Linked DNA regions of Homo sapiens. The protein of the gene in region 1 purifies or fractionates together with the protein of each later gene. This does not show direct contact. Each region holds a gene or a part of one and is shown on either strand. Other genes may lie near its edges. The genes, in order: LRATD1 and NMT2.

The links.
Region 2: the proteins of LRATD1 (region 1) and NMT2 purify together in Homo sapiens (affinity purification with mass spectrometry; one large-scale study listed by BioGRID and IntAct). This does not show direct contact.

Annotation. Positions count from the first base shown.
Region 1 is NC_000002.12:14,636,702-14,640,708, forward strand, and holds the end of LRATD1 (protein LRATD1), read left to right. Parts: 3' UTR 1-3,340; downstream 3,341-4,007. UniProt on the Homo sapiens protein: May play a role in cell morphology and motility.
Region 2 is NC_000010.11:15,133,955-15,137,778, reverse strand, and holds part of NMT2 (glycylpeptide N-tetradecanoyltransferase 2), read left to right. Parts: exon of another isoform or gene 1-2,360; coding exon 2,361-2,505; intron 2,506-3,824.

The DNA.
Region 1 (4,007 bases):
ATATTAACAGCTGTGATTTTGTTGGACAGCAAGTATTATGGCCAAAGCCAGTTTCTTGGCATTTCAAAAATAATGCAATAAAAACTAGTTGAGGTTAGCTGAGGCTGGAAATGCCTTTTTCATGGTAAATGATTCACTTCTATATTTTTCTTTCTTTTTCTTTTTTTTTCTTTGGTTTTCATCCTGGATTCATCCCCTGATCTTAAATCAAAACGTCAGATCAATGAACTATGAACTAAAGTATTTTTCTTAAGCCTATTGAGTGATTTATTTTTTAAAAAATGTTTAAATGCATATGCTTTTCTTTCAGCACAAACAACAGCAAAAACTTTTGTAATAACTAACTTACCTTTGCATGTATGAAGAACTGAGTCATTTATTTCCCTAACTTACTCCTCTTTCAAGTAACAGGTGGCAGATCATAAAATGAATTCTTTATTGTATCTACACACTCCACATTCTTTACTGTGTCCTACTACTGTATCTTGGCTCCCTGCTGTATTAAACACCATCTTAAGCACTTGTTCCTGCAGGACTCCTTCTTGACATTTTGTCTCCCCCTTCAAAGTCACTCAAAGAGTGGGACTTCATCAAAAGAAATGAATTAGTCTCTATCACACCGAATACTAAGATTTATTTCCTCTGATGGTACATAGATTTCTCTCTCACTAAGAGGGTCACTCTCATAGAGGAATGTCTTGTCAGTTTTATACTTGCTGAGGCTAGACTGACAATAAAAATGAGCTGGGCAGTTAAATTAGCATTTGTTACTATATTGGCCTATAAAGGATCAGGTTGATGATAATACCTCTAAAAATATGCAATAATAAAACAATAGTTATGAAAGAAACTTGAAAGGTTTGCAAGGTTTCTCCTATCCCTGTTAAAATTATCATTTATTATCTCTTTGTCAGTGTTAGTAAGGTAACCCATGACAGAATAATTTGAGTGATAGTTCATCATGCAGAGGATATGATCAAGATATTACCTAATGGTTTTATCCTGAAAAAGGTGTATACTTTTAGGGCACTGTTAACAATGCGAGTGAAACCAAGATGGTGCAAGTTCCCTTTGCAGATGGCGTGGGCACACTTGATTTTTATTATGAGTGAATGTAATCTTTCTGTATTTTACCAGAGTTACAGCAATTACCTGAAAAGTTTCCTAACATTTTAATAATGTTAGGGATTTCGTTTTGGTTTTAGTTGTCCTCAAGAGACAACAGGTTCACAGTAATTTCCATGATGTTGGGTGTGGCTAAGCTGGGGATTGGTTCTGTTCCCCCTGCTCCCGTGTAGAGAAAAGCTATATTTATACTGCATTCTTTCTCAACTTTCAGGTAAAACAAACTATGATTTAAAAAAAGAAAAAAGAAAAGACAGGTACTTTTACTTCAAAGAGTGCTTTGCTACATTTTTATTTAAACCAAAAATCAAATAAAATAAGGAGGGGGGCTGGGTATACTTTAAACAAAACCAGTCCTGAAATGCTGTTATTCTCAAAGTACATTCCAAAAAAAAAAAAAAAAAAAAACTATAGAATTTACGTATGTTACATTTTTAAGTATGAGTTAAATTGATATAAAGTGTTCCTCAATATTTAATAATGTAAGCTGTTGTCATGACAGTATTTTTTAAAAATAATAACGTATATTATAGTTACGAAACACTTGTGCCAGATTAGAACATCAAGCACAGAAGCAGCTGTATGATTTACCTGTTTTTTTGAAACTTTAATGTTTACCTTCCCCTATGTTTAATTTTTCTGTGGTGAACACTTTTGTTAGAACATGGCTTTTTTATTTTTCTTGGAAAAATATGCTATTAGTATTTACAAAATAATTAATTACCTGAATAAGCAGTATATACTAAAAGTCTTCAAACATTACTTTATTGATTACTTATGTTTTGTGGTGCGCTTTCAACATCCCTAAGAGTTAAATGTCTTAGTCATCTAATACATGGAACAGGGTCAAACTTCAATGAAATTAATACTTATTGCACAATCATAATATAGCAACCTAATTTTCTTTTATTTATAGGCATATCTTTAAAGCTTTCTTCTCTTTTTTGAACAAATGAAGAGAATCCAGTTAGTTTTTGCCTTTCAGAGGTGATTTGCCACGTGCACAAAGGGTCTGTAGGTGAAAAGACAGGCTTTTGGGTTTCTTGAAACATCAAAAACTGAATTTAGAGAATGGTTATCTAACACTCAAGTCAATGTTTTTTTTGAAATTACTAGCTATTGGTATAATATACATATATGTACATGTATACATATACATACACACATATGTACATTTACACATATGTAAGTATACACTCATATACATATATACACATGTATATATACTTGTGTACACATACATTTTTGCCTATAGCTAGCAATTATTTCATTCAGATACACACACACACACACACACACACAGGCTACTTAAAATAGAGAGTGACTTGAGATATACAAAAACAGGAAGAAAAGCCCTGGAGGTCATATAGCTAATGTATAACTGCACAGCAAGCAGCTATGTCTAAAGCTAACAATAAAAAGAAAATGTGGGAGTTGTGCAATTAGTTTTATTCTCATTTTTTGGAAGAATATGTTCCTGGTTTCTCTAACTAAAAGGAAAAAATTCAAAGGAAAGTTGTAAATATTAGGAAGTAACTGAAAAATAAGAAGCAAGATAAAGTGGGGAGGCTATGAGATCATATAATGAGCTAATAAACTTTTCAACAGGGGACACCTGTTCTCCCTTCTAACTGAAGACACTAAAGAGAAGCTAAGATCCTATCTTTCAATCATTTAGTAATTCATAAAATCCCATTATTTCATAACTCAAAGTTTACCTTTGAGGTTGTATGTTTACCTCATTTGAACTCGAAATAGAAGAGGTTTAAGTATTTGAATAAGTTGGGAAAAAAAGGAAAAATAGTCTTCCCTGCCCTTGTCACTGATGGTGACACTACTTGTAATTACTGTATTTTTTGGCAGAACACTCAGATGAACAGATTCCTATGCTGTGGACTTTTATCATTCTTTTTGATGGCTGATAGTAGAAAGCACACAGTAGGTACTCCATAAATGTAAGACTATGGCAGCTGTCTAGTACAAGTGCTTCTCACTGATTCTTGGTTACCAGGAAAACCAGAAAGCCCGTCACTTGCCTTGCCTGCAAAGGCGAGCCTAAAGAAATTTCTCTAACCAAAATTGGCAGGTTCTTTCCACCACAAAAGGCTCTTGGAAATATAACTTATGGGGCTTAAGGCTAATTTGAGTTGAAGGGTATTTGTAATATTTGATTTGCTTTTAGCAGAGAAAACAATAAAAGAATCCAGGAAAAGTAGAAAATGTTCTCTTGTCATTTGGTCAGAAAGGGAAAAGCGAAGGGAAAAGCAAAATAGTTCCAACTGTAACTTTCACAACTTCATCTCTCATTCACCTCAAGGAGAGATTTTTCTCGCATGAAATCACAAGATTATTCCTTCAGAAGGAAGCTTATTGTAGCTCTTGCTAAAAATTTTCTTTGGTATATGGGAATAGATTTACTAGATGTACACTTAACTCTGGGAAAATTAGATTTGATGGAGTTTGGTCATGGGTGTTTTTCTAAATACACATTACTCATTTATATATTAAAATAATTGCTATGCCTCTTGGCTTTTATAATCCAGTTCTTAATATGAACATGAGTTCTGAACTTTATTTTGTCCAAAGGATAGATACTTATGAAATACTAGGTATGAATAGAGTCAGTGTCCTAAATTTCAAGCACAAAATGAATGCTTCAAAAGTTACTTTGAGCATCATTTAATGTTTCAAAAAATTGAAAAAGATCATATAAGGCTATTGCTTATATGTATCCTAAGGAAATTCTTGCCATCAATGGGTGATACAGACATTAATGTTCTATTTGAGAGCTTCTTTATTATAAGTACACTGACATTTACTTTAGCAAATAAGTTATTATTCTAAATTCAGTTATTTTCCCTGTGACAGCCCTGTGACATACC
Region 2 (3,824 bases), on another chromosome or scaffold:
ACTGTTAGAAGATTTAACTCAGAAACCAGGAAAGAAATCAAGGAACAAAAAATTAAATCAAGAAAGAAAAAGTACCATGACAAATTCATTATAGTCATTGTAGTTCTATTTTTATAAGACTGGGCTCTACTTTGCCATTTTAAGCTAAACTGATGCACAGTTAAGCATTATTAGTTGAAATATGCTGTGATCTCAATTCCTATTTAAATTGTAAGGTCTTCTAATAGATGGTGTTGTTGGAGTTCAGATACACATGAATTTCATTTTGCTAGAAATTTGCTCCTTTTAATGTTGGGGACTTAAAAGACACCCAAGGAAAAGAAGTCATCCAAAGATATAATAATGAGAACCGGAAAAGTATTTTGTTAAATTTGTATGTGTCATTAAGATAGGACCTTTATGATTTTGATGTTAAACAAATGTAAGATAAACAGCTTACAAAAACTGTGGCCATCTTGGATTGTGCTGTGAGACTTCCAAGCAGAGACAAAAAGACTTTCACCTGCCTCCAGCTGGACTTCAGAACTTCGTTTCCTTAGGGTTCTTGACAGTGTTTGTATGAAACAAACCCTGTTCTGTGCTGTGTACGATGAGTAAGCTTCCCAAGTTAAAATTATTGCTCCACACCACAGATTTCAGATTCCAAGTGGAACAGAAGTCCAAAGTTGCTGTTTATAAACTTCTAAGGGTCGATTGTACCTTTCAATGGTGTCCACCCTGTGTTGACATACAGCAAAACCGAAGGGCTCTTGAAACTTCTAACCACTTTCTGAATTACAGCGAAGAATATTCTTTGCATGGTATCAAAGTTCTACAATGTCTCAGTAATTTTACATATTGAAAAAAGTCATTGATTTCCATATTCAGTCCTCTGCGCTGTCTTCTCATTTCAAGTAGTCTCATGTTCCATGTATTATTACGTTATTTGAGGAATTAAAAAAAAAAAAAAAAGAACTGGGGAATCTCCAAGAGCTGGCGGGAATATTGGCTTTGAGAAAGGAACCTTAGAATTCAAACGTAATGTTTTACCTAAAAAGGAGTCCAGTTTCCAACACTTGGGCTGGGAACGACAGGCTATGGTTGCCCAGGATCTGAAGTACAGAGGAAATTGCTTGTCCTTCTGGTGGGAGAGTTTGTCTCTAGAGGATCAGGAGGATCAGGAGGGTCAGGAGAAGGGCAGGGTGTGGCCGGGAGGAAGGGGCATGGTTAGAGATTTCTTTTCTTGATCATTTTCATCCCAGTTCAGCACTGAGTTCAGATTTCCCTTCCTTCCTTCCTTCCTTCCATCTGTCCTTCCTTCCTCCTTTCCTCCCTCTCTCCCTCCCTCCTCCCCCTGTCCCTCTCCTTCCTCCTTCCTCCCTCTCCCTCTCTGTCTCTCCCCCCTACCTTCCTTCCTTCCTTCCTCCCTCGCTCCCTCCCTCCTTTTTTCTTTTCTTTTCTTTCTCTCTGTCTCTCTCCCTTTCTCTTTCTCTCTCCTTCTCTCTCTCTCCCTCCTTTCCCTTCCCTTCCCTTCCCTTTCCCTTCCCTTCCCTTCCTTTCCCTTTCCCTTTCCCTTTCCTGACAGAGTCTTGCTCTTGTCACCCAGGCTGGAGTGCAATGGCGCGATCTCAGCTCACTGCAACCTCCACCTCCCAGGTTCAAGCGATTCTCCCTCCTCAGCCTCCCGAGTAGCTGGGATTACCTGCCATCATGCCTGGCTAATTTTTGTATTGTTGTAAAGACAAGGTTTCACCGTGTTGGCCAGGCTGGTCTCTTAACTCCTGACCTCACGTGATCTGCCCACCTCGGCCTCCCAAAGTGCTGGGATTATAGGCGTGAGACACCACTGCCGATCCTCTCTCTTTCTTTCTCTCTCTCTTTCTCTTTCTTTGTTTTCTCTCTCTCTCTTCTTTCCCTCCCCTCCCCTTCCCTTCCCTTCTCTGCTGTGTTTCCATTCTAGAAGTTCTTTCCTTCATCCCCTCGTTGCTCCTGCAGAGCATTTACTCTGACAGTGCCCCCCACCCAAGGCTCGTGGCTGCCTGGCTGTTGGATGACAGTAATGCATGCACTGCACGTCTCCCCCAGAGGAGTAATGCCGGGGACCATTTGTAGATGGATGGGAAACTGAAGCAAAGCGTGCTTCAATTTAGATTCCCCAAACTGCCAGAGCCCCAATAAAACTAGACAACTGTTGTTACCTTTAACAGAGGGTTTGCTTCTATTTTCATGTGTAACACACAAGCCCATGGCCTTGACTGGGCTTGGAGGAGGATTGTTAGTGTTTAGGTATTGTAGTCTCTGAGGCAGATGCACGTGCGTCTGCTCAAGTTTAACATCAGCAGCCGCTCTCTCATATTCTGTGTCTGTCTTTGCTGTCGTAGAATCCCAGTGTTCCAATGCAGAAGTTGCAGGATATCCAGAGAGCAATGGAGCTGCTATCCGCATGCCAGGGCCCAGCCAGGAACATTGATGAGGCTGCAAAGCACAGATACCAGTTTTGGGACACACAACCGGTACCAAAACTAGGTAAGTTTTTCTGCTTTTCTCTTTTTTTCCCCACAAACAAAGCTGGATGAACAACAACAACAACAACAACAACAACAACAAAACACAAAGAGTGTTAACTTCACATGTATCATTTATTTCATACCACAGATTGGAAATCTATGCAAGACTAATATTTTTCTTCTGAAAATATAAATATTAGATAGTGACATTGGCTTTTGATAACCATTATTTTAGTCCAATTTCTATCCCAATAAAAACATCCAATTTCCCCACACTTGAAACATTACTAGTATTATTATTATTTTTGAGATAGGGTCTCACTCTATCACCCAGGCTGGAGTGCAGTGGCATGATCATAGCTCACTGCAGCCTCCACCTCCTGGGCTCAAGTGATCCATCCTCCCATGTCAGCCTCCCATGTATCTGGGACCACAAGTGCACACCACCACACCTGGCTAATTTTTGTATTTTTTTGTAAAGACGCTGTTTCAGTATGTTGCTTGGGCTGGTCTCGAACTCCTGGGCTCAAGTGATCCACCTGCCTTGGCCTCCCAAAGTGCTGGGTTACAGGTGTGAGCCACCGCACCTAGCCCATTAGAGTATTAAAAATGTATATAAGGTTCTGTGATGGAAGGACCAGGCCCTGAAGGTCCCTCATGGAGCAGGTGTCTGTTGAGTGTCTGTTATTAAATGCCAGGCATAGTCCAGGGCACACACCTGGAAACAGTGGTGGAAAAGTAGGACAAAAGGTGGCCAGGCTGGGGAGGAGCGGCCACACTGAGGTAGAGAAAGGCTTTAGTTAAGCAACAGATGCTGGGAGAAAGTGACGTGTGATGCGTAAGCTTCTGTCGGGAATTCCAAGGGGCCCGTCCCTTGAGGACCAGAGGGCCTCAAGCCTAAGGAAGGCACCAGGAAGGCCCTGAGCTGAGGCCTGCCCCGGTCATCATGGCCAGAGCACTGGGAGCAGGGGGCAGGGAGGGTGTGGAGAGGGGCCGAGGCAGGCAGCAGCCATGGGGAAGAGCCTGGGTTTTAGTCCTACCATGTTGGGAAGCTCTGCAGAGAAGGACTTGGAAAACTCTTCTTGGTGGAAATCACTAGAAATTGTGATGGCCTGAACTACGCTGCTAGCAGTTTAGATGGGGAGAAGTAACCAGCCTTGAAATTATTTTTAGGTTTTGCTGGGAGGGGCAGAGGTCACCGCAGCCCTTTCCTCTCCCAGTTTGTGGAAATGCAGTAAAAAGAACACACCTCCCAAGGCTGTTGAATGAAACCTACATTGCTTATGACAGTGTGTAAGATAAGGCTGCATTGTAGGCCTTGAGACTCGGAATCACTGT